Homo sapiens: one gene and its partners. The protein of the gene in region 2 purifies or fractionates together with the protein of the main gene of each other region. This does not show direct contact. Each region holds a gene or a part of one and is shown on either strand. Other genes may lie near its edges.

Region 1 (3,675 bases), on a different chromosome or scaffold from region 2:
TGGCTGGCGGAAGGCCGTGAGTGCCTACCATTGCTTCCCAGCCAGCCCCTTGTGGAAGCCAGGCTCTGTGGACCACGGTCAAGACCACTGGTTTGTGAGGACACCCTCCTACCTCAGACTATGAGCTGTGGCGTGTTTGTCCTTACCCCTGGGCACAGGGACCTGATTACTAGCCACCACCTTTGCCTTTGCCATCAGGGCAGGAGTGGAGACTTCCCCGCCTTTGGTAGATAAGCAGGACCAAGGCCAAAAGAGGACAAGGTCCTAATGAGTGTGTGGCATTGCACTGTACTCCTCTGAGGCCCTGCTGAGCGGGGTCTAATCCTGCAGCTGTTAAGGAAACGGGGGTGGAGAAAGCCTCTGTGGGTATTTGACCGACACCTCTGAGGCTGTGTGGGTGGGGAGAGCCCTGCACTCCAGGGCCCCTTCTCCATGGGATCAGAAAGGCTCAGTAATCAGAATTTTGTTTATCCCACAGAAGCAGTTGGGCTCGTTGAAAAAGAAGTTCAAGAGTCATCACCGCAAACCCAAGAGCTTCAGCTCCTGTAAACAGCCAGGTTAATAAAAGCACATGCCGTGAAGTTTCGAGAAAGCCTTCAGATATTTCCCCCGCTCCTGATCAAACCGTGTGTCCTCTGAATGATCGGCTGTCCCCAGTGTCTTCTCTACCCACTTATCCTTGTCTCATGACATCTGCTGCCCTCTAAGGCAGGGCTGAGGGAGTCTGTCCCCCACACCCAGGAAGCAGCAGGGACTCTGAGGGACTAATTCTCTCTGGACATGGCTTCTGAGTGGTCTTCAGAGAAGCCTAGAGAAGTAACCTCGCTCACTGGCATCCTGAGGGGAGCCCCATTCAGGCTGGGCAACGCTATAGGATCACACTGCATACAACAAACGCCATTATTTATTTTGATGTGTTTCCAAAAATCAAAACGTTTTCAAACACAACTAAGATATAAAATACAGCATAAAATGAGATTTAGATCTGTTTCCCACATAAAGCAAAAAAATCTTAGAAATTGTTTTGCCAGAATCAATTGGTAGATCCCACTTATCCTCCCCTCCCTGCAAAGGCATCTTCCCGAATCAGGCCCTAGCCCACCCAGGGCCAGGAGAAACAGGAACACCCACTAGGACGGAGGCGCTGCTGGTGCAGAACTGGTGCTGACTGCTCACGTGGCCTCCTTTGGTCCACCCTACTTTCCACCAATCAGCCAACCAACCTTGACCACAGAGAAACCGTGACTTGGCCAAGGTCATTTGATGGGGGCTGTCATACGGCACTAACAGGGAGCGAGGTGTGGACCAAGAGACAGCCCTGGTGAGGTTGAAACACTGAGACAAGCCAGTCTTCATGCAGTGAGCACTTGAATGATCACAGGAGAAGAGAACCCATGTCCTGAAGCCATTGCTCGATCTTACCAATATTCGGGGGTAAGGAAGTAGGCTACCAGGGGAATATTTGCAAACGCGTTGGGACTAGTTCGGCTGTGTTAAAAAGGTAGGTGACTTCCAAAAGCACTTATGAGCAGAAACCTGCCTCACCCCTGCCCTGCAGAGCCAATGGATGAGAGGCCAAGAGGGAGGCAGGCTCGGGGCTGGGCCGCAGCAGCCCTGGAGACAGGCTGAGCCAGCCTGTCCCCAGATAGGTCTAGGGGCCAGAGAGGTGTTCGACTACCCTTGTGGCATTTACTATGGTGCAGACGACAGGGAGCAACAAGCAGTTAAGCTCCCCCAAAAAGAGAAACACAGTATAAGGCAGTGTTAGAAAACTTTAAATACAGGATTAAGATCAAATCGGTAAGGCATCACAAATTGTAAAAAGGAATTTTGGCTGCATTCGGCATAGCAAACGGACAATCTGAGTGAGCGACAGCCTCAGGAAAGTGGTGTGTCGGGGCTGTCCACAGGGCGAGTGCAGCTGGGAAAGGGCGGTGCTGCTCAGCCAGGGCGGCCTGCGCTTTCGAGACCTTGCTCAGAAAAGGCCCCATGTGAGGTAACTGGGTTGAGTCCGTGGGTCTCCAGTGCTGGGAGCTCCTGCCACACCCCCTGCCCACAGCGGCTGCGGCTCTGCAAGCTGGTCTGAGCAGCTGGCCAGGCTGGCTTGCAGGGTGCTGCTGCTGGGGCTACCCCTGTGTGGTCTCACTAGCCCTTCCCACTGCCAGCTTGGAGGCCAGCAGCACCCAGACCAGCAGCTTCCCCAAGGACTTCTTGCCCCTCCACCTTGCCTCAAGCTACTAAAACTCCCAGGGTGTTACCCAATAAAACACTTGGCACCAATCCAAGCTGATTTTCTGACCGATGACTTTTATCATAAACAGCAGCTTCTACCACCCCTTTAATACTGCATCATTCTTTGGGTGTCCCTAAATGTTTTCACTATTCCTATAAAATACAATGCGGGGCAGAAACAACATCAAAGCCACTGGTGTGATTTTAAACCAGGGAGATTAACTGTTTTGAGGTTTGGCTGAACCACCCAAAATAATTTAGTAGTTTCCGCTAAAAATGTAAACTTACAAATAAGAGGGAGACTGCTTTGAATGATAATACCAATGCGTCTGCTCACAGTACAGCTTGAAGGCCCCCTCCTGTACCCCCACAAAAAAACTCAAAAATAGGACTGAGATGCCACAGCCAAGCGGGCTGTTCACTCCAAAGCCTCGGCGTGGGGGAGGCTTCCAGCTGCCAGGCTGGCCTGCACTGAAGGGTCAGACGCCAGACTGTGGCTCCAGAGCAGACTGAGCCATCGATTCTCAGGTGTCTCTGCAAATAAAGTTCTCAAAACATCTGTGCCTTTACCAAGGGAGGGGAAGGGAAGAGGATACATAAAAGCTGGCAGTTTTGTTGAATCCACCCCGAACCAGTCCTTGACGGCCACGGGTCTTAGCCAGGCAGGTAGGGATCTGTGACTGTTACCACTCCTTCTTCTTCTCATCCATGGAGACACCCCCAGGGCCCAGGGCCACCACCAGGAGCAAGCCCCCAATCACCGACATGGTCTGGAAGAAGTCGTATTTCAGGAAGTCATGCATGGGCTTGTAGACTGGAATGGTCCAGAAGGCGTTGAAATATACGTTGATGGCAAAGAGCCACACAACAAGAGTCAAAGCAGCCAGCTTGGTTTTAAAACCAATGGCCACTAAAATCATCAGAGCTGTGCCCACGATGTTCTGGACAATCTGCATAGGTTGAAACGTAAGAAATTCAAAATAAATGTGAGGAAAAGAGATGCTTTATAAACAAAAGTTCCAGCTGCTGCACGTCATGAAGTCTCTATCCATCAGGCTGATGTAGCTACTGCTGAGACGGCTGCTGGTGCAAGTAGGGAGATAAAAGCCAAAGGGAGGCAGGAGGCAATAAAGCACCAGCTTTGAAATGTGGAAGGTTTGGGGAAGACTGAAGTTCCCAACTAGTAACAGGCTGTGATTTACCAAGATGAATCTCTAATCCATAACTAAATTCCCAAGTGCTTCTTGGCCCACCCAGCCATCCAGGCCAGAAACATCCTCTCTCCTCTCTCCATGGCGCCAGGAGCTCTTCCTGGACACTACCCGGCCAGGGCTCTCAGTCAGCTCCGGAGGTGTGCTCTGGAAGCTCCTGGAGGCCTGCCCCTGACACCTGACACACAGGAATTACTTGAGAAAGATACGAACAGTGAGGAAAGAAAGAAGA
Region 2 (4,626 bases):
AGCCACGGCCAGGTCCCTGCAGCAGAAGGAGAGTGGCCCTCCCTTGCCTTCACCGCATCAGAGACGGAAAGAACTGGAAGGAAGGAGCCCAGGCTCTGCAGTGAGCCACGAGAGGCTCCTCCTCCAAGACTCCCCTCACAGACTCCCCTGCCGTGCCTCCCCGCCGAGGCTGCCGGAAGCTGTTCCCTCAGACTTACCTCAGTGAAGGATGGGACTCACGCACGAGGCCCTGGGGCCAGAGGTAGTACTGCACGGTGATGACCAGGGCCAGGTAACAGGCAGCCAGAGTGCCTAGGATGCTAACACAGTGACCGTGTGAGGGGCTGCGCAGTGGGTGACATGTGCGGTTGATGCACGGGGACAGTAGTGGGATCTGAATCCCAGCTCCGCCCTTGACAATGAGGTGCTGGCCAAGCTGTCCACCTCTGCCTCACCATCCTCATCTGTACAGGGGGCATGTGGGGCAGGGCTGCTTTGGGGTCAAGGGGTCAGATGTAGAGTTTTGTTGTTGTTGTTTTGTTGTTGTTGTTGTTTTTTGAGACGGAGTCTCGCTCTGTTGCCCAGGCTGGAGTGCAGTGGCGCAATCTTGGCTCACTGCAAACTCTGCCTCCCGGGTTCAAGCAATTCTCCTGCCTCAGCCTCCCGAATAGCTGGGATTACAGGTGTCCGCCCCCACGCCTCGCTAATTTTTGTACTTTTAGTAGAGACAGGGTTTCACCGTGTTGGTCAGGCTGGTTTTGAACTGCTGACCTCGTGATCTGCCTGCCTTGGCCTCCCAAAGTGCTGGAATTACAGGTGTGACGCCCAGCCCAAATGTGTAGAATTCTTAATGGCACCCGGCGCCCTTCGGGATGGCAGCTGTAATAGTGTTTCCTTCCCACCAGCAAAAGCTAATCAGCCACTCAGCCTGATGCCTAAGGCAGGACGCCAGCAGGCTCGCTCACACTTGAGAGGGGACAAGCCGCCCCCTGGCTTGGTCTGAGTGGCACGAGAGCCTTGCAGGGCAGAGACCTGAGGGAGGCTCGGGTTTGCTGCCTGCTGTTTCTATACAATGTCTATTGTTCATACACAACAGGGAAAAGGCAGGCAGCAGAGGGAGATGGATACTGTTTCCAAGCTTTATTTCTTCCTAAGTATACAGACCCTTAGCCACAAAAAAACAACCTCTGTGTGTGTGCACACATGTGCGTGCATGGGCACGGGGACATGCGGGGATGGGGGTGCATGTGTGGGTGGGTGAGCATGGGTGGGTGTGGGTACGTGGGTGTGCATGGGTGGGTGTGGGTAGGTGGGTGTGCATGGGGGGGTGTGGGTAGGTGGGTGTGCATGGGGGGGTGTGGGTAGGTGGGTGTGTATGTGTGGGTGTGGGTAGGTGTGTGTTGTGGGGAGGCGTCTCTCTCTCTCTGCAGCCATGTGCAAAAAATCCAACAATGAAATAAACTGAGTAGCACTGACGTTGTTACAGGTCATTTTCTTCTTTAGGCTCATCTATGTTTTGCATCATGCATACATTTTACTTGTATAATTTTTTTTTCGTTTTCCCCTTCTCCAAATGTGAAGGCCAATTCCCCAGCTCCTCTGACCCCAGATGGACAGAAACCCTGACACAAACACTCAGCAAGGTGGGGGCCCCCACCAGGCAGCATCCCAGCCCTTACCTTGTGTATTTCTGGAAGGCGATCTCCCGCGGGGCAGACAGGGGCAGGATGACCAGCACGGAGAGCAGGGGCAGGGTGAAGCGCTGGTCTGCGTACCACGGCTGCGGGGCGGGCGGGGTGCCAGACAGGAGGGAGTCACACACTGCCAGAGACACGGGGAGAGCTGAGCCACAGAGTACAAATGCCGTGGGTTCTCGGCTCCCACCTGGCCCTTCAACCCTGGCTGGGGTTGGACATCCACCCTCAGCCAGCCCCAGGAGCCCAGGGATCAGACGACAAGTGAGATGGAGACAGGTCACGTGCCCCACGCAGGAACAAACCCTGACACATGAATTCATTCAACAAACATTCGCTGGGCTCCTTCCCCAAGCCCAGCACTGCTCTAAGGCCCAAGATGAGGCGATGACCAGACAAGCCATCTGCCCTCGTGCCCCTTACATTCTGGTGAAAGACTCTTTTGGTTTCGTTCGGGAACTCAATAGTATCTGGAGTCAAATGGGGGCCTGAAGTCGATTTTTGGCCACCGTGCCGTCAGCAACAGGCTGCTGTGCATGAGCATTGTAGGTCCTCATGGTTGCAGCAGAACACATGACCCCAAATGCAGTGGCTCAAAACCACTTTATTACAAGTCATGGATCGTAGGTAGAGAGTTAGTACAGGGCCAGGCTGGCCAATCCTCCTCCATATAGAATTGGCTGAGGTTGCTTGGGGGGTCTCTGGCTGGCAGTGGGGCTGGTCTGGAGGAACCCTGATGGCTCCCCACAACACCTACTGCCTGATGGGTACACCTGGGCCTTCCCTGCAGTCTGGGAGTCTCTCCACATGGGCCACCTAGCAGGCACCTCCAACTTCTTCCATGGCAGCTGGGGGACCCCAGAGACTGAGGCAGAAGCTGCCTGTCCTCTTAAAGGCCAGACCCAGAATGGGCAGTGTCTCATTTGCCACACATTGCTGGACAAAGCCATCCAGGCACACCTAATTCAAAGGCAAGGGACACAAGCTCCACTAACCTCTCCGTGGAAAGAACACCAAAGAATGTGGGGCCATTTTTATTCTGCCACAGTGGGATGAATGATTTGGAACCCATCTAAGAGGTAAGACAGATGGGGGAGGGGAAAGCACAGGCGAGTGGGAGGGTGGTTGGAGGTGGGAGCCACTGGGAACCACCTGGGTGGGTGAGGTGGCCCCTGCAACCACTGGAGATGGGAGGCCGAGGAGCTTGAGATGTCTTCGCTCCTTCGGTGGGTTGTTGGCCCTGAGGTGTCTTAAGTGCTTCTTTGTTCTCACTCAACAAGGGGAGCCATGTGAAAAAATGAATGCATGTGAGAATAGCTCAAGCGTACGAAATGATGAAGGGGAAAGTTCCAAAAGCAGGTGGTCACAGCAGCATCCACGTGGGAGAGCCGAGATGCCAAGGGACTGCACATGCCCCAGGACTGCACCGAGATCGTGGGTGAGTTTTAGACCTCCAGGTGGCGTGGGATGGGGCAGGCCCTTTGTCTGCATCTGGACCTCCCATAGCCAGGATCCTCAGGGCCAACAGCAGGACTGTACCAGCTCCTTCCTAAACCCAGCGTTCCCGGATGCTTGAGATCTTTGGCACCAAAGACATGGTCAATTGTACCTCGTGCCATGACTCCCCCAAGCACTCCAACCTCTATCTAGCACTCCGTCTCAGAAGCTTGGCCTTCCCTACAGAGAGGCATCCCCAAATATCTAACCAGATATACACAAGAACGCTCTCTCCACCACAGTCAATCAACCCAGACCTGGGGTGGCCCGTATCCTCATCCGTCCTCTGACTAGTCAGGGGGCTCCGCTCCCAGTGAGGCTCAGAATCCTTCTTAACACAGCAACGCTACCAGTTCAGTGGAGTTGAAACTGCAGACGAACTCTACTTGCCACTGTGGGGGAGCAGGACGTTTTTGTGCCCACTTACCCATTAAGAGGTTCAGATACGCCAATCTCACTTCTTCTTGGTATAAGGTCGTGTTTACCAAGACACAGCAGCCTTCAATCTCAATACCCCCCAGTCAGGGGCCTTTTGCTTCATGGGTCAAGAGACACACAGAACACACACATGGCAAAATGGTACACTAAATTTCACCCTATCAACAATCACATGCCAATTAAAAGTCTAAACATTCCAATCGGAAGTCTGAGACTGTCAAGTTGGATAAAAAAGCAAGACCCGACCATATGCTGCCTACAAGAAATGCATTTTAAAATCCCAAGCCATTCTCAGGCTGGTGTTGCAAAAAGGACATATAAACACATTTAACAAAAAAATAATCCAAGTCATAGTTAGATTCTAAGTCAAAGAATGAGAAGAGAACTTCTATACAAACACTAGTCTTAAGGATGCTAGAGTGCCTCTATTAATGGTAGAGAAGACAGATTTAATGCCAGAGATAAAGAATACTTCATAATAAAAGGATATACCTAGAGTTTCAAAGACCACGAACCATGAAGCTTGACAGAATAGGCTAATCTGCAATCGCAGCTGGCGATTTTAACATCCTTTAACATCCTTCTCTTAGGAATAGAATAACTAGACCTAAAGATTAATATGGTTGCAATGACGATCTGAACACAGCTGTTGACTGCCTTGACCTAATGGACATTGCCAGCACACTGTACCCAGCAACTGCAGAGTACACATTCTCTGAAGAGCACACAAAGTGTTCTCCAAGACAGACCATGTGCTGGACTACAGAGCCAGTCTCACTGGATCTCAAAAGACAGCAATGATACAGACTCCCTGACCATGATGCAAATTAAGGTCGAAACCGTGAAGGAATCTAAAAAACTCCTCAATAATTGTCAATTAAACACTACAATTCTAAACATCTCACAAGTCAAAGAAACCACAGTGAAAAGGAGCAAATATTTTAAATTTTCCATTCATGAGGAATGAGTCCAGTGAAAATGAAAATAGGACATATGAAAATTGGCAAGATGCAGCTAA
Region 3 (3,500 bases), on a different chromosome or scaffold from region 2:
GGAAAACTCCATCTCTACAAAAAAAATGCAAAAATTATCCAGGTGTGGTGATGCATGACTGTAGTCCCAGCTACTCAGGAGGCTGAGGTGGGAGGATCGCTTGGGCCTGGGAGGCGGAGGTGGCAGTGAGCTAAGATCACGCCACTGCACTCCAGCCTGGGTGACAGGGTGAGACCCTGTCTCAAAAAAAAAAGAAAAAAGCTGCAATGTTTGTTAGATAATAAGAATTATATAACCCAAGATGTTTCTTCTATGGTCTTAGTTGTCAATAAGCTGAAAGTTAATTTAATACTCAAGTATAGCAACTAGTTTGGCCTATGGATCTTGCTATTTTTTCCCTCCCCTCTACATTTTTTTCCTGAAAGTATATATTTGTCTCATACTTGCCCCACATCCTTTTACAAGGCAAGTAATATTAAACTTTGAGAGAGATGATTATTTGCAATAAACAATCTAGTTAATAAATTCCAAGCTAGAATGAACCTATGCAGTAAAGTTAAATTAATAACATAACATCATTTTTCAAAACCATTAGAAGAAATCAGTCACAAGATTACAGTTTTAATTTTGCTATATAAATGTATTAAAGTATTTATTTAATTCATATCATTAATTCATTAACAACAAAGAGCAGGCCATTTAAAAACCAAACTGCATGTCCTCAAAATTATAGAGCTGTTTAACTACTGCAATCATAAGCTACTTAGTCTTACAAAATAAACACACATGCCAGGTGCAGTGGCTCAAGCCTGTAATCCCAGCACTTTGGGAGGCTGAGGCAGGTGAATCCCTTGAGCTCAGGAGTTCAAGACCAGCCTGGGCAACATGGCAAAATCCCATCTTTACCAAATAATAATCACAATAATAATAACATGGACAGGGTATGGTGGCTCACGCCTGTAATCCCAGCACTTTGGGAGGCAGAAGCGGGAGGATCACCTGAGGTCAGGAGTGCGAGACCAGCCTGGCCAACATGCTGAAACCCCATCTCTACTAAAAATACAAAAATTAGCTGGGCATAGTGGCGGGCACCTGTAATCTCAGCTACTCAGGAGGCTGAGGCAGGAGAACTGCTTGAACCCAGGAGGCATAGGTTGCAGTGAGCCGAGATTGTGCCATTGCACTCTAGCCTGGGCGACAAGAGTGAAACTCTGTCTCAAAAATAAAAATAATAATAATAATAATACAAAAAGGCCAGGTGCAGTGGCTCACACCTATAATCCCAGTACTTTGGGAGTCCAAGGTAGGAGGATCACTTGAGCCCCAGAGTTCAAGACCAGCCTGGGCAAATAGTGAGACCTCATCACTATAAAGTCGTAAATAAATAAAATTTAAAAAATAAAAAGAGAATAAACACATGTACACAACCACATACAGTATGTGGCAGAAACTTAGATAATTTGGGTATTAGATAGTCAAACTGAACAGAATGACTTACAGCTCTGGAGGAATGGGTTACATATATAATGCCCCAAATTTATAACTGGAAACAAACTAACAGAGAAAAAACAGCATTATTCATGCCATTAGGCTTCAAAGAGAAAGAACAAAATTTGCTAGTGTTTGTAAACATTTGGGGTAGTTGATTAAAAAGCTTTTTAATTGTCTGGAAAAGCCTACCATATTTCCTTTCAGGAGGCACATTCTGGTAATCTGAGACACTGCATTACTACTCAGCTTTCTGTTAAGTTCTTTCCAAGCACAGCTGACATCCTGTATTTCCTCTAGGCTTTCCAGAGTCATGGTCACAAACCCCTTAAGGAATAAAAACCACATTATGTTTGGAAATAAATCAGCAGCAGTACAATGAAATTCTAACTCTATAATCCTTCAAGACTTAACTGTGCATTTCTTATGAGCCAAAAGTATAACATTGCAGCTAAAAAATTTTTTTGAAACTACATTATTAGAAGAATAGTGTTTATAGATAATTGAAAGTACTATCCTATGTATTGCTGTAAGACTCTATTTAATTCTAACCATTATGCTTTAAGAGAGAATTAAGAATTAAGCAAACCAGAGCCAAGAAAGACAACAAGGTAGTGAAGAATTAAGGAAATGTTGAAGGAGTCAAAGTCAGCTTGGAACGAAAACCTTGGCTGGGTGTGGTGGCTCACACCTGTAATCTCAGCACTTTAGGAAACCGAGGCGGGAGGGTCACTTGAGCCCAGGAGTTTGAGACCAGCCTGGGCAACATGGTGAAATAACCATTGCTACAAAAATAATAATAATAATAATTAGCCAGGCATGGTGGCCTACTCCTACAGTCCCAGCTACTTGGGAGGCTTGAGCCCAGGAGCCCAGGAGGCAGAGGTTGCAGTGAGCCGAGATTGCACCACTGCACTCCAGCCTGGGTGACAGAACTAGACCCTGTCTCAAAAAAAAAATAAAAAGTAAATACAACATAAATTTCTTTAACCTTTTTTTTTTTTTTTTAAGACAGGGTCTCGCTCTGTCACCCAGGTTGGAATGCAGTGGCACGATCTCAGCTCACTGCACCCTCAACCTTCTGGGCTCAAGCAGTCTTCTCACCTCAGCCCCACAAGCATCTGGAACTACAGGTGCGTGCCACCATGCCGTGCTAATTTTTGTATTTTTAGTAGAGACGGGGTTGCCCAGGTTGGTCTTGAACCCCTGGACTCAAGTGATCTGCCTGCTTCAGCCTCCCAAAGTGCTAGGATTACAGGCATAAGCCACCATGCCTGAACAATTTCTTTAAACTTTTGAAGGAGTGTTACATAAGCAAAAATTATTTGTTCTGTAAAGCTTCACTAACAGCAAAAGAATCAACATTAAGAAGATATGGGGATGCATTCAGCAAACAAATATTTATTGAGTGCGCCCTACGTATGTGCCACAGACTGTACTAGGTGCTAGAGATTCAGCAGTAAGTAGTCCTTTCTCTCATGGACAGTAAATTCTAGTGCATGTGCATGTACCTACACCTGTATGTGGGGTTGGGTGGGGGGGTACACAGTAAACAAAAAAGCAAATATATGGAATATCATATAGTAATAAGCGTCACGAACAGGAATAAAGCAGGGCTTAGGGAACAAAGAGTATAGGGAGGAGTAAGCTATTTTAGAGTGATCAAGAAAGACCTCTCTGGTATGATATTTGAGCAGAGACCAGAATGAAGTAAAGGAGGAAGCAACATGGTTATTAGAGGGGAAGAACATTCAAGACAATGAAAGTATGTACAAAGGCCTTGTGTAATAGTTAAGTTTATGTCTGAGGAAAACCAAATAGGTTAGGGTGGCTGAAATAAGAAAGGGGAGAGTGATAAGACATGACGTCAAGAAGATAGCAAGAGGAAAAGCCTATAGGACATTCCTGATAAAGACTGGATTTTGGTTTAACCCATGAAAGAAATTTAAAGCCACTAACACCCTGTTTCTAAGATATTTAATCAGAGATTAAATGACCCATCTGCCAAAGAGGGATTCTTCATTGGATGAGAGTTGAGACTAAATAACTTCTTAGGTACTTCTTAGCTCAAA
Region 4 (4,626 bases), on a different chromosome or scaffold from region 2:
TACAGGCGTGTGCCACCATGCCCGGCTAATTTTTGTATTTTCTAGTAGAGACAGGGTTTCACCATATTGGACAGGCTGGTCTCGAACTCCTGACCTTGTGATCCACCCACCTCGGCCTCCCAAAGTGCTGAAATTACAGGTGTGAGCCACCGCGCCCAGCCTCATTTCACTTTCAATGCTGCCCTGAGAGGGAAGGCTGTTGTCCAATTTCAGGGTGAAGAATGGGGCTCCGAGAGGTGAAGTGGCCCATCTGAACTTTCTCAGGCAGTAGGCAGCAGAGCACCCGAGTGGAGTGGGAGTGACCCGGCTAGCATGGGTGGAGGGGTGGGGGAGGCACCAGTACTCACACTGAAGATGAAGAAGAGCTCGATGAACATGGCGCCGAAGGGCAAGATCCCAGCCATGAGGATGCTGCCACAGAACGAGAGGTTGACATTGTTAGAGACCAGGCCACCAGGAAGCCCCAAGCTCCTTCCCAAGCTGGCATGAAGAGAGAGCACCTACACGAGTGTGGTGGTGCTAATTCTTCTGGCATATTTCTGTACTATTATAATCTCTTGAGAGGTAGGCAGGGTGGGCATTATTCTCCTCATTTTATAGATGGGCAACTGGGGTGCAGAGAGGTGGGGTGACTTGCCCAAGGTCCAAGTGATGGTCTTAACCTGTCTCACTATACCCTTCCATCCTTCCCCTTCCTTGTCCTGGTTCCTAGGATGACACCAAGTCTGCCTACAACCTGGTCACCTTGATCTTGGAGTGAAGTTAAGCTTTCATAAACTCTATTAGAGCCGGCTGAAGCGGCAGGAACTCTGGTTGCCGCACCCTTCTGGTGGCGGAGGGGGGCGTACCCTCTTCCACGTTCCCCTGCTCTTGCCTCTGCTGGAGGACTCACCCCACAAATCGGTTCATGTACCACCGCTGCTCGGGGATCTGCCGGGGAATCTGGTTGGTGCGCACAGGGTTGTCATATGGCTGCTTTCGGAAGCCGAAGTAGTAGCCCAAGTAGACGAGGGGCAGGGAGATCCCGAACCACATGCACAGCAGAGCCACCATGGTGGGAAAGGGCACCTGTAGACATGGCACCATGAGGCCCCCACGAGGCCCTGATGCCCGGGATGGGGGCTGCGCAAGGGGGAGGGGACCTTCTGGGCTCCACAGAAGGAGAGGCGACTTGTGCAGCAGAAGCACACTCCCTGCCCCCACCACAGGGCTCCTGGCCAGAATCTCTTGAGGCTGACCCCAGCCCTGATCTGGACTCCCAGTGAAGAAGGCACCTCAGCATCCCAGAGGAGCTCACCATCCAGGGAGGAAGTAGGGGAGGAACAGGAAGGAGTGGACTGAGAACGTGAAGAGATGAAGAGGTCAAAATGAAGAGATTACATGTGGCACATTATGTGAAGAAAAGAAGGGAAAAAACAACACTGTACAAAGTGCTCCCAATCTTGTCAGAATAAAACTACATGATATACTATTAAGTGTAAAAAGGAGGCTATAAACTATGTGTATAGAAGGATTCCATTTTAATAAAAACACAACATAGTCGGTCCTCTGTATCCATGGGTTCTGCATCTGTGGATTTAATCAACTGCAAACAGAAAATGTTCAGGAAGGCCGGGAGCAGTGGCTCATGCCTGTAATACCAGCAGTTTGGGAGGCTGAGGTGGGCAGATCACTTGAGGTCAGGAGTTCAAGATCAGCCTGGCCAACATGGTAAAACCCAGTCTCTACTAAAATTACAAAAAAAAAATTAGCCGGGCACTGTGGGGGGCACCTGTAATCCCAGTTACTTGGGAGGCTGAGGCAGGAGAATCATTTGAACCTGGGAGGTGGAGGTTGCAGTGAACTGAGACCTTGCCACTCCACTCCAGCCTGGGTGACAGAGTGAGAGAGTGAGACTTCGTCTCAAAAAAAAAAAAAAAGAAAATGTCCAGGAAAAAAAAAAATACAATAAAATAAGCTGGGTACAGTGGCTCACGCCTGTAATCCCAGCACTTTGGGAGGCCTAGGTGGGCAGATCACTTGAGCCCAGGAGTTTGAGACCAGCCTAGGCAACACAGTGAGACTGTATCTCTACAATTTTTTTTTTTAATTGCCGAGTGTGGTGGTGACACCTGTAGTCCCAGCTACTCAGTGGGGCTGAGGTGGGAGGACCACTTGAGCCCGGGAGGCAGAGGTTGCAGTGAGCTGAGACCACAGCACTGCACTCCAGCCTGAGCAACAGAGTGAGACCCTGTCTCAAAACAAACAAACAAAAAATACAACAATACAAATTAAAAAACAATATAGTATAACAACTATTTACATAGCATTTACATTGTATTAGGTATTTTAAGTAATCTAGAGAAGAGTCAGAATATACAGGATGTGTGTACGTAAACACTATGCCACTTTATATATGGGACTCGAGCATCCTTGAATTTTGGTATCTTCAGGGGTCCTGGAACCAATCCCCTATGAATACCAAGGGACAACTGTATCTATTTATATTTGTGCCTGGAAAGGCCTATACCAAAGAGCTAACAATACTTCCTTAGATGGGATATGGGGGATTAGAACTGATTTTTCATTTTCTTCTTTATCCTCTTCTCTACACTTACTTTTTACAAGAATCACATAAAAAGAAATATATATATAAAGTGTTTAGAACAGTATTACTACAAAGCAAGCATCATATAAATGTTTGCTGTTATTTTATAAATTTTAAATTATGTAATTCTTTTGTAAGTATATCTATAAAAAGGAAAAAAGACAACATATATTAAAGACCTACATTGTATTTATCTCTGGGTGAGCAGATTTGGGGTTATTTTAAATTTCTTCTTTAACTTCTCTGCACTTTCCAAAATTTCTACAGTGAATGTTTATAATGAGCAGCTGGTAACTGGGAGGAAAATGCTCAAAGGGAGAAGGAACACAGGGATAAAAAAGGTGAAGTGAGAGGAAGGGCATGACTGTGTCTTGAGGGTGGCTTCCTAAGTTGCTGGGAAAGAAACCCCTCCTCTGTAAGCCTGGACGTGAAGCCTCATGCAAGGACCTTTACCGCCACCCCCAGGTGGAGGGCAGAGGGCTCTACGTGCTAAGGCTAGGATAGCAAAATGCCTGCCACATCTCAACTGCAGTCCTGCTAATTGACCAAGACCCCACTCCCCCTCCCCACAACTGAGTTCAAAATCCTCCTCAGTGAGTCTTGGACAGCTGCTAGTAACACACTGGACTGGGGCTGGCAGGATTCCCAGCTCTAAGGGTAATACAACCTGATCCTTCCTTTCCTCTCTCCTCCACCTGCAGGGGCTGGTGCTGAGGGGCAGGGACACTGAGGAGGACAGGCTTGCTTTGGGATAATGACCTAATAAACTCACACTGGGCAGCTCACTCTTGGTTAAGACAAAGGGAAATTCCCCAGTTGGCCGCTGGACTGTGGAAACCTCCCTTTAGAGAAGTGGGCTTGGGTCAGTTGACTGAAAGATCTCACAGGAAGGCCAGGGCCAGGGCATGACACACCAAGGGCAGGGCTGGGGAAACCCCAGCTGGCCCTCTGCCCTCATGGCTGGGAACGTAACTCTGGGGACTCAGAAAAGGGAAGGGAATGGCAGGAAGTGGCTTTTGGGAGTAGGGCTGAGTGCAACTGGTCCTCGCTTGCTGGGGAGGGGCTGGAAGGGTAGGGGAGGCACTTACCGCTCCTGATGAGTGCTTTCCCCAAATGAAGCAATTCAATACGAAGCAGATGCCAAAAACCACACCAGGGTACAGAGTTGCCGTCTGGAGCAAGAGGGGCCGGGTTGAGGAGCAGCATCCAGGGACCTCCCCTACCTGTCCCGGTGGGGCCCCCAGACCAGAAGCTCTTAAGCCCTCCTTGTCTTTCAGACTCTGCTCAAGCATCATTCCTTCCAGAAAGTATTCCCTGACCCTCAGACTGAGCAGGACTCTGTTCTATGCCCTCTCAGGTCCCTAATACTGCCCCTTCTTGCTCTCATCCCAGTTCGTAATTACATATTTTGGCTACCTGATCAATATCCGCCTATCCCCAAAAGACTGTGAGCTCCTTGGGAGGAGTGTGTCTACCTTGTTCTCTGATGTACTCTCATCACTGAGAACACGGTAACTACTCTGGCCAGGCGTGGTGGCTCATGCCTGCAATCCCAGCACTTTGGGAGGCCGAGGTAGGTGGATCACCTGAGGTCAGGAGTTTGAGACCAGCCTGGCCCACATGGCGAAACTCCGTCTCTACTAAAAATACAAAAAATAGCCGGTGTGGTGGCTCATGCCTGTAGTCTCAGCTACTCGGGAGGCTGAGGCTGGAGAATTGCTTGAACCCGGGAGGCAAAGGTTGCAGTGAGCAGAGATCGTGCCACTGCACTCCAGCCTGCGCGACAGAGCGAGATTCCGTCTCAAAAAAAAGAAAAAAAGAACACGTTAACTACCCAATATATACATATGTAAAAAAATTTTTTTTTTGAGGGGGAGAAAAATTACCTCCAGAATCGCTTGAGCTCAGGTGTTTGAGACCAGCCTGGGCAACATGGTGAAACCCTGTCTTTACAAAAAATTAGCCAGGCGTGGTAGTACGCACCTGTGGTCCCAGCTACTTGGGAGGCTGAAACAGATGGATTGCTTGAGCCCGGGAGG
Region 5 (4,626 bases), on a different chromosome or scaffold from region 2:
AGAATTACCTGGGGGTGTTAACTGGCCTGGGATAAGGCTGAGACATAGATTTTGTTTAAGCTTCTCAGGTGATTCTATATGTAGCCAGGATAAGGGCTGCTGAGGTACAGAACTGGTTCTTTTCAGTAGGTTTCAATAAATATATTATTAGCATTTTGTGGTTTAATTTTTCTAGGTTTAAAATTAGACCAGTAAGCTTGGTATCATATTTCGAAATGTATACAAAATAAAAATCTTAGTAATACTCACAATGAATCCAAACACAACTGTGGAAAAGAAACCACCAATGAATCCTTCCCAAGTCTTTTTAGGAGACAACTAAAAAAGGGCAAATAAAATTAAAAAGCTTTACTGCACTCACAAAACTCACAATATATATATATATATATATATAAACTATTTCCTCAATAACTTGTACATCTCTCCTTACTTTTTCTCTTATTGGAATAGTTCAAAACCCTTTTTCCTTTTCTCTGATCTTGATTTACTAGTGAAAATCTCTCTAATAATATTTAAACACATAGTAGGCCCTCAAATATTTGAAATGCTGTGAATATGTGTTTGTTCATGTTAAATGGTCTAAATTTGTTCTGTCTCTCAAAAGAGTATAAACTCTATACTAAAATAACTGTCCCATGACTCTTATGCTAATATAAAACCTGATAATAGTTGGTGTAAGTTCTTGGAATAAGAATGAGACGTATTCATTCCAAGTACACACAGTCAGTATTGACCTGCTATTGGCCAAAAATAGAATCAGTACAACAAAACATGGACATTTTAGCACATATAATTTTCACATATTCCTAATATGCTATATACACACAGACTTCCTTCTGATATGGCAAAATACTCCAGAGCCCCAGATACTGTATTTGCTCAAGTATTGACATATCCTCTCTTTTTTCACAATCTATGTCCATTTCCAAGAAGAAAGGAACATGCTGCACTTCAAAGAAGAGATATTGTTTGTGTTGGATTCAGGCTATTGCTGCCCAGTCAATGGACCATTCATGGAAAGAAATCTGGAAAAAAATCTAGAAGTTAGTGGTGTTGGGGCAGGAGGAAAAGATTCAGGAGCAAAAAGTGAAAGTTGTTGCTCAGGGGAGATAAAGACTGTGATGTGTGGGAGGATTTGGTCATCAGGTCATTAATGAGGGACAGAAACCAAATATCAGAATAAAGTCTCTGAAGTATTAAAATGGGTTATGGGTTAACCTATAGGAGCTCTTCATAGACTTCTTGTCCTGATATTCATAAAGCCCCAAACCAAAACAGTTGGCAGAAATGGTTTCTTGACAAATCTGATAACAATTCTGCCACAGAGAAGGGACAGACACACCTTCTCCTAGGGTAATTCACTATCACTGCCATGAAGTAGGAGCAGACTCAAATTCAAAAGTGCCTGCTGATTATTGTAAAGATAGCTTATCAAATTAAATTGATGCATATCATATCGATTTAGGGGTTAACTGTTCAATTATCTAAGTATATTATACAATTAATCCAGCCTGATAAATTCACTAGAAGGCTGTGTTCAAAATCAGTTGCTAATATTCTTCCACAGCTATAACAGCCTTTTTGAAGGCTTCTGATATGGTTTGGATCTGTGTCTCCACCCAAATGTCACGTCCACTTGTAATCCTCAGTGTCGGAGGTGGGGCCTGGTGGGAAGTGACTGGGTCAGGGAGGGGGTTTCTAATGGTTAAGCACCATCCCCCTATTGCTGTCCCATGAGTTCTCATGATATCTGGTTGTTGAAAAGTCTGTGGCACCTCCTCACTCTCCCTCTTCCTCCTGCTCTGACCATATAAGATGTGCCTGCTTCCCCTTCCGCCAAGATCATAAGTTTCCTGAGGCCTCCCCAGCCATGCTTCCTGTACAGCTTGCAGAACCATAAGCCAATTAAAGCTCTGGCATTTCTTTATAGCAGTGTGAGAATGAACTAATACAGCTTCCCAAGCCGAAAACTTCTCAGTCTGGGTAGAACTCTTGAATACGTAAATCATGTATTCAAGCTTTAGAAACTCTGGAGCAGCTTTAGAAACGTTTTAAAAATATACAGCTTGCTTACCAGTATCCTTATACAGCTCAGCCCAACACTCTCTGTGTGCTGATGCTTTCAGCAGGTGCTCTCTGTGAGCTCCTCCCCAAGAGGGGAAGAGTTTACAGAGGTTTTTGGAAGAACAGGCAGTCCACAAATTCCTCTGGTAATACTAAACTACCCTCATACCACTCTGAACAAACAGAAGGCTTTATATCTGAACAATTGTCTCAGTCCTTCCAAAACTGCATTCATATAACAATATCAAAACAGCCAGGTAATAATATGTCTGTGAGAACATTATTAAAAACTTTGCCCAATAATGTGAAATGTGTGAATCTTATCTGAAACTCCAACATGAAAAGCTCTTTTAGGCCGGGTGTGGTGGCTCACGCCTGTAATCCCAGCACTTTCAGAGGCCGAGGTAGGTAGATCATTCGAGGTCAGGAGTTCTAGACCAGCCTGGCCAACATGGTGAAACCCTGTCTCTACTAAAAATACTAAAATTAACCAGGCATGGTGGCAGCCGCCTGTAATCCCAGATACTTGGGAGGCTGAGGCAGGAGAATCACTTGAACCCAGGAGGCGGAGGTTGCAGTGAACCCAGATTGCGCCACTGCACTACAGACTGGGTGACAGGGCGAGACTTTGTCTCCAAAAACGAATAAAAACTAAACAAAAATAAAGAAGAGCTCTTTTAGAAGAAATCAGTTCTAGAAAATGATTTGATTTCCATGAAGAATTAGTTTATTTCTTCTCCCAAATGAGAACTATGTAATTTAGTTCATTTCCTTCTTTACCATTGCCCATAAATAGAACCAATTCTATAGCAAAACAACATGGTCTACTCATGTGTATTTTCCTTTCCCTTTCATTATTACTTGTATTTTATTAGTATTTTATTGTAGGGCCCCAAAATCTTCTTTTGGTATGAGTTTGGATATGAAAAGTCACACAAATGGATATGAGGATGTGAAGGTGTATTATATAATCTCTTCTTTGAGAAAGTTTGGTAAAGGAGGGGACAGGTAAGGCGACAGGTTGAAGGGAGAGGAGAGTCAAGGAAAAGGCTTGTGTATAGGCTTGCTGGAAAGGAGGATAAAGAAGAACTGCACCAATGGCCGAGAGAAAAAACCACAGAGCCCAGGGGCGGTGGCTCACGCCTTTAATCCCAGTACTTTGGGAGGCTGAAATGGGCAGACTGCTTGAGCCTAGGAGTTTGGGACAAGCCTGAACAACATGGCAAGACTCTGTCTCTACCAAAAATACAAAAATTAGCCGGGTGTGGTGGCATGCACCTGAAGCCCCAGCTACTCGGGAGGCTGAGGTGGGAAGATTGCTAGAGCCTGGGAGGTGGAAGCTGCAGTGAGCCATGGTAGCACCACTGTACTCCAGCCTGGGTGGCAAAGCAAGACCCCATCTTCAAAAAAAAAAAGGAAAGAAAAGAAACCACATAAAGATAAAATGAAGATGAAAAGGGAGGGAGGGAGGGAGGGAGGGAAGGAGGGAAGGAAGGAAGGAAGGAAGGAAGGAAGGAAGGAAGGAAGGAAGGAAGGAAGGAAGGAAGGAAGGCAGGCAGGCAGGCAGGCAGGCAGGCAGGCAGGCAGGCAGGCAGGCAGGCAGACTGATGGAGTCATGCCCTTCCTGAGGAGCCAACAGAAGAGCTGATGAAGAACCCAGATGGAAGTACTGAGAAATATGGTTTGCTGCTTCTGCACCATGCAGCTAAGGAAAATCAAAGCACCTCAAAAATAAAAAATGCACAACAGCACAGTTGTTGGAAATGTTCTCCAGTGGCTAATCTTTAAGGTTACATAGTGGCTTGCTTATAAAATTTTTCCATTACCTTAATTAATGGAGTTCTCCCAAAAAAAAATCCAAAAAGGTAAGCAGTTATGTCATTGCAGATAACACTTGATATTGGAACAAGGAACCTGTTTTTAAAAAAAAAAAAAAAAGTCAGCAGAAAAAAGTTCACCTGAGTAAGTGGCAGATATTCGGAAAGGTTATGATTCATAATGAACCATCAGAATAACCCTTTGGATTGCACTGCAGCCTACCCAGAACATAACACTTGCCAAAACAGTAGAAATGATAAATATCAACCAAATTTGCCCACTTACCAATTTAAACAGAGCAAAATCTAAAAATAAACTAGCATGCTAGGAAAATATTAAATTATTGATTTCTACAGTTATGGATGTTTTCATTTTAGTTTTATGAGGAACATGTTACAATAAAAAATAAAAGGCAGACTGAAAGCTAATCTTAAGAAAACCAGCCTTTTAATATGAAAATGAGTCATTTCTTTAGACAGAACATAATCTGATAAATTTATATCAAGCTCTTAATACATATTCTCAATTATTAATTTTAATTCTATCTTAGCTTATGATTTCAGTAAACCCTACTGAATGTACAGAACCTACTTACTTCAGTAACTGCCCCATCAATGAAAAGTCTGTACAATACATGAAAGACAATCTTAAAATGATTCCAATTACTTTACACACGCACATACACACAGAGACACACACACACAAAGACACAACCACACCCTTGGTAAAAAGACATAAAGCTGT
Region 6 (4,626 bases), on a different chromosome or scaffold from region 2:
TACCTCCCCATCCATCTATCTCCCAAGCTTTCTCTCCCTTCTCCACTACGGTGGTGTTAGCACCTCACTTAAGCCCAATCTCCTGCTTTTTCTGTGGCCCTTTTCATCTGGGTAGCAGAGTGATCTTTCTCACAGGCAAATCAAGATATGTCAGTCCTTGGTTAGGATGTTTCAGTGACTCCCCATGGCCCTCAGGCTAAAGTCTCAACTCTTGCCTGGCTTTCAAGGCCCTTCTTGAGCTGGCCTCTCCCTGCCCATCAGACTCATCACCTGTTCAAGCACCTATAGTCTGTTCATATAAAAACACTCACTGTTCCTTGAGCACACTACATTCTCTCCTCCATGCCTGTGCTCATGCTTGTTCGCTATCTGGTGAAACCTCTCATCCTTCAAAGCCTAGGTCAAAAGCCATCTCTTCCTCCTCTACTTCTTCCAGCAGTGAGTCATTATGTGTGCCCCCCTCCCCTTCTATTCTAGCATTTGGTGTATTATGTTATAATGTATTGACTGACCATTCTGTGTCCCTGACTGCTGTATGGATTCTTCTGAGGGTAGGGACATTTTTTAATTCACTGATGCACCCTTCTTCAGAGTTGGCATGTATGTGGAGGGAATGAGCGAAATCTGCAGCACCGTCCCTTTTTCCACAGTATACTATCCACCCCTCTCCTTTTAGCACTGATGTGGTCTCACAGTCTCCATTTCCCCTAAGTCTTATTTTCTCAAAAAAAGTTTTAGCTCTTGGAGGGTAGGAGCTATGAGGGATTAATATCCCTTTCCCTGGTTCAAACTATGTCAAATATTTTTATTGTATACAGTGGGCTCTCCATATCTGTGAGTTCCACATCAGTGGATTCAACCAACCAAATCTAAAATATGTGGAAAAAAAGTTGTGTCTGTACCGAATATGTACACACTTTATTTACTGTACGGCACAACAAGGGTTTATGTAACAATGTATGAGGTATTATAAGTAATCTACAGATGATTTAAAGTATATAGGAGGATGTGCAATGGTTATTTGCAAATACTATAAGCCATTTCAAATCAAAGACTTGAGCATCCTCGGATAGCAGGTCCTGGGCCCAACCCCCCATGGATACTGAGGGACAACTGTATAAAATAATTTTTCATTTTGTTGGAATGGTACATAATGGTTAAGACCACAAGCTCTTCACCCCAGAAAGAAATGGTTCTGAATCCCAACCTTTCCATTTACCAACCTTGTGACCTTGCGCATGTTACTAAACCTCTCTGGATCTTAGTGTCCTCATCTGCAAAATGAGCATAATAGTGGTACTTCCCTTGTAGGATTGTTTTTAATATTAAACAGTATACAAAGAGCCTAGCACAGTGTCTAGCACATGTTAAGCATGCAATAATTACTTTAATTGTAGAGTCACAATTCTGGAAGCCATTCCCCTCAGGATACCTAAGGGATGAGGCAGAGAGGGATCTTGGGACATGGGCAGGGCTGGTAAACGTGAACCAGGAAGGGTATTGTCATTAATTGGACTAAAGATTTGCTAGTCATTTTTCCTTTGAAGATGAGGCTGAATGCTGGAGCCAAGAAAGAGGAACTTCCTAGGCAACTCTAAAGGGGCGGTCAACTAGAGAGAGATGATGAGAGGCAGGACACATACTTCTGGCAATTTAAGGCCCAGATGTGATGCAGGAGCAAAAGGAAAAAAGTGAAGCTTCAGAAGAGGGAAGAAGGCTAGAGATCTAAGCCTGGGAGAGAAGGAGCTTTTTAGACCCTAAGCCAGGAGACCTCCAGGGGAGTGATCAGCAGAGGAGCTGAACTTTGGTGAAGGTTCCTCAATCAGGGTGAGGAACCTTGTACTACGTGTCTTTTTTTCCCATGAGTTTATAGACTTTGGGTTTTCTTTTCCCTTCCAGTCCTACAAAATGTTCTTTCAGGCAGGTTAAGTGATTTGGGAATTCTCTGCATTCTCTGTGGTTGGGGGCTGCCTCAGCTAGTTGGGTTGGGGCAGTGAGGTAGACAGGAGGCATTTACTAGAGAAATGCCAGATCTGTTTACTCTTTCAAGGAATGTGTGCTTGTGTGTGTCTTATTCCTACGGTATATCCTAGCTCAGGGCTGGGCACACAGGAAGCATCCCGAGAGTACTTATTAGATTGAATCTTATTCACATCTAACTGCTACCTTCTACACTAGCCAAGAGGTCCTTCCTTCTTGGCCTGGGGAGGTATTGTCCTGGCCTCTCCACCTCCTGGCTCTTACTTGGTCAGCGATGACTGTCCGGTGCTGATACATTCCAGGGTTAAGCTGCCAACGACAGAACTGGCCTCTCCAGCCACGGGTAATAGTGCCTCCCCCGATGCCACCCAAGGGACAACCTAGAGAAATCAGGGTGGTTAGTGGGGTATTGGGAGAGGAAAATAAGCCCATTTCTAACTTTCTAGACTATAAAGCCTGGTTCCTCTGAAAACCTAGGGGATGGAACAGTGCAATTTGCATAAGCTGGAAGTCTCTTCCTAACTGTGGTAGACCTGGAGGCTAGGCCTTCTCTGAGCAGAGCAGAGATGGGGTGGGGCTCACCATAAATCTGTCTTAGGGGTACAGAATTGATCATGTCGATGAAAGGTGTCTTCTTTTCCACATGGGTCTTCCGGTACCACCACTGCAGGTACCTGAGGAGCAAGAGGCAATGTGAGTGGAAGGGGGCAGGTGGGCAGCTGTTCACAGGCTGAGTCACCTGCCTCTCTCTGTGACCTCCCATTAAATGTCCCAAGGACATCTGCTTTCAAACCTTTCTTCCTCTTGATTTCTATACAGTTCAAGGTCCCTTCATCTTCCCAGTCACCCCAGCTGAAGTGAAGGAGTGGCTTTGTTTCTCTCCTTTGTTCTCCTCAGAAGGGGCTTTCTGATCTCTCCTTACCTCTCTAGCACCACCACCACTGCTTTATTTCCAACATCAGGAGCTTCTGTCTGACGTGCTGAAAGGACCATTTATGGTTTCCTGGCCTACAGCCTCCGCCCCCAATCCCCTACCTCCAAAACAGGCATAGGCTGCTGGGAATAACTTTCTTATCTTTATTTTTATTATTTATTATTTTTTTTTTGAGACAGAGTTTCGTTCCTTGTTGTCCAGGCTGGAGTGCAGTGGCTCGGTCTTGGCTCACTGCAAACTCCGCCTCCCAAGTTCAAGAAATTCTTCTGCCTCAGCCTCCCAAGTAGCTGGGATTACAGGTGCCCGCCACCATGCCTGGCACATTTTTTTGTGTTTTTAGTAGAGATGGGGTTTCACCATGTTAGCCAGGCTGGTCTTGAACTCCTGACCTCAGGTGATCCGCCCGCCTCGGCCTCCCAAAGTGCTGGGATTAGAGGCGTGAGCTACCGCTTCTGGCCTTTCTTCTTTTTAAAATGATCATTTTTCTTTCTAATTATGAAAGGTGAAAGGGGGAAAAAAATAATCTCACCCATAGACAATCAGTGTTTATATTTATTTCTGGACATTTCCTCTCAAGCCTTTTTTTTTTTTTTTTTTAAATTCAACATTTAAACTGTGAAGCTTTCTGATTTTGCTCTTGGTAAAGCCTTCAAAAAATCCCAACATTTTCCTGGGCTTGGTACAGCCCTATATCCAAGAGGCAAATGATTGAGGCTGTTTTCAATAGGCAAACGATTCTGTTTTCAAGGCTCTGACATCTGTCCCAGCCTATCTTCTAATCTTATTTCCTACAAATTCTCATTCCAGATGGGTCCTCACTAAGTAGCCCCTGCCCTGCCAGACTCTTTCCCATTTCCACTCTCCTGCCTACTGCCACATTATGCCTACTGTTCAGTCACACCACTTCTAACCAAATAATTGGGTAAGTAACCCCTAAGTCCCAGTTTCCTCATCTACAAAATGGGGATACCACCTGCTCTAGCTATCTAATGAAATGGTTGAAAGATCAAATGACATAATAGATAAGAAAGCCATAAAGTACAGGTATGATTATTACTCATATATACAAACTGTTATCTCAATTCCTAATCAGACATTGCCTTGTTATTTCAATGTTCCTCATGTGAGGCTGACATACTTTTAAGTTCCTTGGGGAAAGGGACAATGACAAAGACTAGCTGAATATTACCCTCAGGTCCAAGCACAGGGTAGGACATATGGTCTGCAGTCAATGCATATTTGCCAATTTTACAGATGAATGAACATACAAATGATGGGGCACAAGAGAGATAACAGACTGGAGCAGAGGAGAAGAAATGTGATTAATGAATAGGGACAGCGGCCAGGCACGGTGGCTCACACCTGTAATCCCAGCACTTTGAGAGGCCGAGGTGGGCGGATCACGTGAGGTCAGGAGTTCAAGACCAGCCTGGCCAATGTGGTGAAACCCCGTCTCTACTAAAAATACAAAAACATTAGCCAGCTGTGGTGGCAGGCACCTGCAATCCCAGCTACTCAGGAGGCTGAGGCAGGAGAATCGCTTGAACCCAGGAGACGGAGGTTGCACTGAGCTGAGATTGCACCATTGTACTCCAGCCTGGGTGACAAGAGCAAGACTGTCTCAAAAAAAAAATAATAATAAAATAAAAAGGGACAGCACATTCTAGGGGTGGAAAGAAGAGGGAAGACAAAGGATGGGATGACAGGAAGGC
Region 7 (4,626 bases), on a different chromosome or scaffold from region 2:
AGCAGCCTGTTGCTGAGACAGGCTGGGCTTGTTGCTTTCTGTGGCGAGGCAGCACTGTCTTGCAAAGCCTTAGGATCATCTCAGAGGGCAGGAAGGGTGGGGAGATCTGCTGAGATTTTGAAGTCTGGTTTAAGGTGGATCTTTCAACATGGGGGTTGGTTAAGATTGGTTTAAGTTGGTTAAGATTGGTTAAGATCCTTAATCCCCATGTTAAGGATTGGTGGGCACAGCAGGGTGTGGATTTTGAGGCGAGAGGTGTCAACCGATGCTTCCTGTTGAAGAGTTGGAATGAATCGGAAGGTTATTTGTGTTATGTGTGTTATTTGGAGGAGGTGGGGGAGTGGCCAGTGGTCATCTTCCTCCCAGCTCATCCCCTACTGCGGGGCATCTGAGACCAGTATTTTGCTCTCTTGAGTGTTCTGGTTGTGCTCTGGTCCTGGTACTCTCTCTCTCTCTGTCTCTGTGTGCGTTGGGGTTGAAGGCCAGAAACAGCCAGGTTGAGGCTGGGGCCAGATGTCCCCAGTGAGGCAGGTGCTGGGCCCTAGGTCATCCTCTGTGCCCACTCCAACAGAGTGCAGGAGCTGTAAAGTTAGATTGGTGCAGACAGAGGAAGAGTGAAGTCACGTTAATGTAGACAGTAAGCTGTGTGACGTAAGCCCCGTTTCTCAGCAGTCCAGCGATTGTCTATCTTGTACAGACCTCTTGCCCTCGCCCCAGCCAAGGTTGCCTTGGAAAGGCTGAGGGTTTGTGGACGGGAAGGAGAGTGGGCCTTGGTGTTTCTTGGGAGTGGGGCAGCAGGGCAGATCTGGGCTGGGTAGGGTGAACTCCCCCTCCCCAGGCAGAGGGAGATATTCTAACCGAACCCACGGGGATAGGCAGCCGTGAAGTCCTTCCTCGGAGGAGAGGAGGAGATGAGGTCCCTGTCTGGAAGTCTGGAACAGTTTATCATGAGAGCCAGGACAGGTGGTGGAGAGCCTCAGCTCAGAAGACAGGATGCCTGCATTCCAGACCTGTCTTGTCACTCTGCATTGGGTAGCTTTGGGCAAGTCCCAGTCCCACCTAATCTCCCTATTGAGACCTCAAGCCTCAGTTTCCTCATATGACCAGTAGGAATCCTTATCCTTGCTCTGCCCACCTGAGTCACTGTGAAGGTGTTTTATGAAAGGGTCAGATGCAGAAGGGGCTGGCCTCGCTGACTGCAGCCTCGCAGCTGTGTCTGGGGCTGAGTAGTTTCTCTGATCTCTAGGGGTCCTGCCTAGGGTTGTCTTCTCCTGACCTGCCCCTGTCCCCTGTGTTTTCCCTCCAGGTCTACACCAGCTCTCAGCCCCTGCGTGTGGGGTACTATGAGACTGACAACTATACCATGCCCTCCCCGGCCATGAGGCGGGCCGTGCTGGAGACCAAACAGAGCCTTGAGGCTGCGGGGCACACGGTATGACTGCAGGGTCCTGGAAGTACTGGCATCTCCTCCCCTCACGGGAAGCCTTCCTGGTACCCATGGCTACTCCATCCCTGGCATCCTGGCACTCTGACGATGTTGTCGTCGGGGTGAACTGTGACCCTGTGGGACAAGTATATAGAGGGCTGATCAAGAGTATTGGAGTGAGTGATTGATGGAGAACTTTAGCCCTGTGCTGTGTGATGTGTGAGCACTGCATGTGGGGAGGCTCTTCAGCTCTAAACAGTGGTGCACAGCTGTCCAGAGGCTCCCAGGGCCAGTGGGTTTTGGTCTGGTCATTACACAACTTTATGTGTGGCTCCAGACTTCTCTCATGCTGTGCATTCCACAGTGAGTTTTCATGGGTCAGTAAGGCTGCCTTTGTAGCTCTAGTGAGAGCTATCTTGTGGGCAGGGTTGGTCCAATCCATCCTCAGGGCCGCCCAGACAGCATGGGGATCATGAAGCCAGTTGTTAGGTCAGGAGGCCTTACACCCCTCAATCCCTGCAGCTGGTTCCCTTCTTGCCAAGCAACATACCCCATGCTCTGGAGACCCTGTCAACAGGTGGGCTCTTCAGTGATGGTGGCCACACCTTCCTACAGAACTTGTGAGTGATAGTGGGCTTTGGGGTCTTGGTGGGATCAGACAAGTAGGCAGACCTGGGGGAGCAGCAGGGTGTGGTGATGCCTGGATGGGCCTTAGCTGAATCCAACAAAGGCCTGAGCACTCTGGGCAGGGACCTCGCTGTCCCTCCAGCTGGGCACATTGAGCCTGGAGATCCCTTGCCAGGGTGCCAGCCCGAGGGGAGGCTGGGTTGAGTATCTGTGGCCTACCCCTGATCTGAGCTTGTTGTGAGGTAGGAGGTGGGCAGGAGGTTGCCTCTCTGTTTGGGAAGGATTTGGGCCAAGGGCAGGATCCAGGCAGGAGGGTGGGGGTTTGGACTTGATGCTGTGACTCCAGGCTCTGTCTGACTTGAGCCAAGTCTTCTTTTTGAGCAGGACCTCAGCTTTCTCTCCTGTAAAGTGGGTGGGTTGGACCAGACTCCCTTTAAGGGACTTTGCAGAGCTCATTTTTAGAGAAGTTCGTTCCTCTGGGATGCTTCTAGTCATTAAAGGTGTCAGGGGCAGAGAACAGGCCTGCAAAGGTGCCTCCTGGTGACATACCTCTGCTGGATGGACTGGAACCCTTCAGAACACAGTCCCCCTTCCTCCACTTCACTGATGGAGAACTTGGCCCTGCAGCCTGGAGCTTGGCCCTGCAGCTTCACTCAGTCAAGGGCCCAGCCTGTCATGTTCCTTTCCTTCCCCTAGCAGCCAAGTGTGGTCCAGGCTTCAGTGGAAGGGGTCACTCCTCACTCTGGCCCTGGGAATGAGTCCCCAGGATCAGCTGCCTGAGACCTTTCCCTGAGATCTTGAGCCAGAGATAGCCTCAGAGCCCTGCTTCATGGGCAGCCCACCCTCGATTTCCCCACCTGTGCCTCCAGGCTGTACCTCCCTAAGGGGAGGTACCCTCAGGGAGGCCTCATCAGGGAGATGTTGCCCTCAGTTCTTAGAGCTCTGAGCTGGGTTTGCTGGAGAGGGATACCCTGAGTCCTGCCTTGGGGAGCTCCCGTGGATGTGGGTTGCAGCCCAGGCATCCCAAAGGATCAGCAGAAACAAACGGCATGTTTGGAAGGAGGGAGCTGAGTCTGGTGAGGAGGAGGTGGACAGGATCCCTGCATAGAGAATGGGATTGCTGTGGGCCGGGCGAGCAAGCTGGGAAGGATGTGGGGATGGGAGTGCCTGGACCGAGCATTTTGTTTCCCAGCAAAGGTGATTTCGTGGACCCCTGCCTGGGGGACCTGGTCTCAATTCTGAAGCTTCCCCAATGGCTTAAAGGACTGCTGGCCTTCCTGGTGAAGCCTCTGGTGAGGGCACAAGGAGTGGAGGGGCTAGGATGGCTGGGGGGGAACCTAGGGCCTCCTATCGCATGATCCCCCATGGCCTCCCTCAGCCTCTCTTGGTTTGGGCAGGCATGGCCTCCTCTTCTCTCCAGTCCCCACCCAGACTGCTCTCCTCCTCTGTCCCCTGCGATCTTCAGCCAACCCGCATGCTGAAAGGGGTGCCGACCTGGGCCCTGGGGGGAGGCATGGAGGGAGGGGTCCCCAGTGGCTTGGCCTGAAGAAGGTTGACGTCTGCCGTGGCCCAGAGCTGAGTCACCGACCCTGCGTCTGTCCTGTGCAGCTGCCAAGGCTGTCAGCTTTCCTCAGCAACATGAAGTCTCGGTAAGGGTTCTTCTGTGTCTAGCTGCCGGCCCCTGCCTGTCCTGATCCGAGTCTGGGTCTGGGTAGTTTCTGACAGGAAAGGACTTGAGGGAAGTAGCCTCTGAGGCTGGAAGTGGCCCAGGCAGGGGGGCAACCTTTGTGGCCTTCAGATGGGACTTTGAAGTTGTCTTGGCAAGGTCCAGTTCTGGCTGGAGAGCAAAGGCCTGAGGGGGACAAGAGGATGGGGGAGTTGGAGGGGAGGAGGTTGACCTGGCTGGGGCATGAGTGGAAAGGACCAGGAAGTGGGGGTTGGCCTGGGCCAAGGGTGGGGCACCCGGGAGAGATGCCACTGTTAGAGATCTGAGCTGACCTGAGCTGCGCCAGGCCCTACTTGCCCCTTAGTGGCTGGGGCTGGAAAAGCAGGGCGTAAACCTCCCTGTTTCATGCCCTGACGTCCCATGGACTCACTCCTTCCCTTACCACCAGGCTTCAGGACTGGCAGCAGCTATGGCCTCTCCCGTGTCCTGAGGGTAGCGAGGAATCGGGCCTGGGCTAGTCCTGGCTCTGCTGTGGAGTCACCAAGTGCCAGCCTGTGCCCCTCTGGGGCCTGATTTTCTCATCCAGACAGTAGGGGTTTGAACTTCCCTCTCAGAGCTCCCATGGGGTTGTGAAGGGTCCACGGAGGGGTGAGATCTAGAGGGTTGGCAGTAGGGGTCTGATGTTGCTGATCTCCGTGGCTGTGACCATCATGGCTGGTGACCACACTCCTTCTGCCCAGTTCGGCTGGAAAACTCTGGGAACTGCAGCACGAGATCGAGGTGAGGCCAGAGCCTCTGGATTGGAGCAGGGTGGTGGGGGGAGGGTGGAGTTGGACAGGGTACCCGCTAGCAGTGTCTCGTGGCCACTGCCCCCATGGGGCTCCTAGACTGGCCTGTCATCCCCCTT

The links.
Region 1: the proteins of SLC38A8 (region 2) and SURF4 purify together in Homo sapiens (affinity purification with mass spectrometry; one large-scale study listed by BioGRID and IntAct). This does not show direct contact.
Region 3: the proteins of SLC38A8 (region 2) and DDX50 purify together in Homo sapiens (affinity purification with mass spectrometry; one large-scale study listed by BioGRID and IntAct). This does not show direct contact.
Region 4: the proteins of SLC38A8 (region 2) and TM9SF4 purify together in Homo sapiens (affinity purification with mass spectrometry; one large-scale study listed by BioGRID and IntAct). This does not show direct contact.
Region 5: the proteins of SLC38A8 (region 2) and CDS1 purify together in Homo sapiens (affinity purification with mass spectrometry; one large-scale study listed by BioGRID and IntAct). This does not show direct contact.
Region 6: the proteins of SLC38A8 (region 2) and GBA2 purify together in Homo sapiens (affinity purification with mass spectrometry; one large-scale study listed by BioGRID and IntAct). This does not show direct contact.
Region 7: the proteins of SLC38A8 (region 2) and FAAH purify together in Homo sapiens (affinity purification with mass spectrometry; one large-scale study listed by BioGRID and IntAct). This does not show direct contact.

The regions. Positions count from the first base shown.
Region 1 is NC_000009.12:133,360,578-133,364,252, forward strand, and holds the end of SURF4 (surfeit locus protein 4), read right to left. Parts: intron 3,183-3,675; coding exon 2,916-3,182; 3' UTR 2,899-2,915; coding exon of another isoform or gene 2,887-2,898; 3' UTR 887-2,886; downstream 1-886. Other genes in the region: SURF2 (surfeit locus protein 2), read left to right, coding at 479-562. UniProt on the Homo sapiens protein: Endoplasmic reticulum cargo receptor that mediates the export of lipoproteins by recruiting cargos into COPII vesicles to facilitate their secretion.
Region 2 is NC_000016.10:84,031,670-84,036,295, forward strand, and holds part of SLC38A8 (solute carrier family 38 member 8), read right to left. Parts: intron 1,801-4,626; coding exon 1,659-1,800; intron 300-1,658; coding exon 198-299; intron 1-197. UniProt on the Homo sapiens protein: Electrogenic sodium-dependent amino acid transporter with a preference for L-glutamine, L-alanine, L-histidine, L-aspartate and L-arginine. May facilitate glutamine uptake in both excitatory and inhibitory neurons.
Region 3 is NC_000010.11:68,939,315-68,942,814, reverse strand, and holds part of DDX50 (ATP-dependent RNA helicase DDX50), read right to left. Parts: intron 1,756-3,500; coding exon 1,621-1,755; intron 1-1,620. UniProt on the Homo sapiens protein: ATP-dependent RNA helicase that may play a role in various aspects of RNA metabolism including pre-mRNA splicing or ribosomal RNA production.
Region 4 is NC_000020.11:32,154,236-32,158,861, reverse strand, and holds part of TM9SF4 (transmembrane 9 superfamily member 4 isoform 1 precursor), read right to left. Parts: intron 3,760-4,626; coding exon 3,676-3,759; intron 1,069-3,675; coding exon 893-1,068; intron 412-892; coding exon 348-411; intron 1-347. UniProt on the Homo sapiens protein: Associates with proteins harboring glycine-rich transmembrane domains and ensures their efficient localization to the cell surface.
Region 5 is NC_000004.12:84,634,616-84,639,241, reverse strand, and holds part of CDS1 (phosphatidate cytidylyltransferase 1), read right to left. Parts: intron 3,979-4,626; coding exon 3,891-3,978; intron 319-3,890; coding exon 250-318; intron 1-249. UniProt on the Homo sapiens protein: Catalyzes the conversion of phosphatidic acid (PA) to CDP-diacylglycerol (CDP-DAG), an essential intermediate in the synthesis of phosphatidylglycerol, cardiolipin and phosphatidylinositol.
Region 6 is NC_000009.12:35,742,053-35,746,678, forward strand, and holds part of GBA2 (non-lysosomal glucosylceramidase), read right to left. Parts: intron 2,657-4,626; exon of another isoform or gene 2,655-2,656; coding exon 2,563-2,654; intron 2,361-2,562; coding exon 2,245-2,360; exon of another isoform or gene 2,167-2,244; intron 1,275-2,166; exon of another isoform or gene 1,241-1,274; coding exon of another isoform or gene 1,224-1,240; intron 1-1,223. UniProt on the Homo sapiens protein: Non-lysosomal glucosylceramidase that catalyzes the hydrolysis of glucosylceramides/GlcCers (such as beta-D-glucosyl-(1<->1')-N-acylsphing-4-enine) to free glucose and ceramides (such as N-acylsphing-4-enine).
Region 7 is NC_000001.11:46,407,153-46,411,778, forward strand, and holds part of FAAH (fatty-acid amide hydrolase 1), read left to right. Parts: intron 1-1,306; coding exon 1,307-1,432; intron 1,433-1,948; coding exon 1,949-2,046; intron 2,047-3,245; coding exon 3,246-3,345; intron 3,346-3,661; coding exon 3,662-3,702; intron 3,703-4,459; coding exon 4,460-4,499; intron 4,500-4,626. UniProt on the Homo sapiens protein: Catalyzes the hydrolysis of endogenous amidated lipids like the sleep-inducing lipid oleamide ((9Z)-octadecenamide), the endocannabinoid anandamide (N-(5Z,8Z,11Z,14Z-eicosatetraenoyl)-ethanolamine), as well as other fatty amides, to their corresponding fatty acids, thereby regulating the signaling functions of these molecules.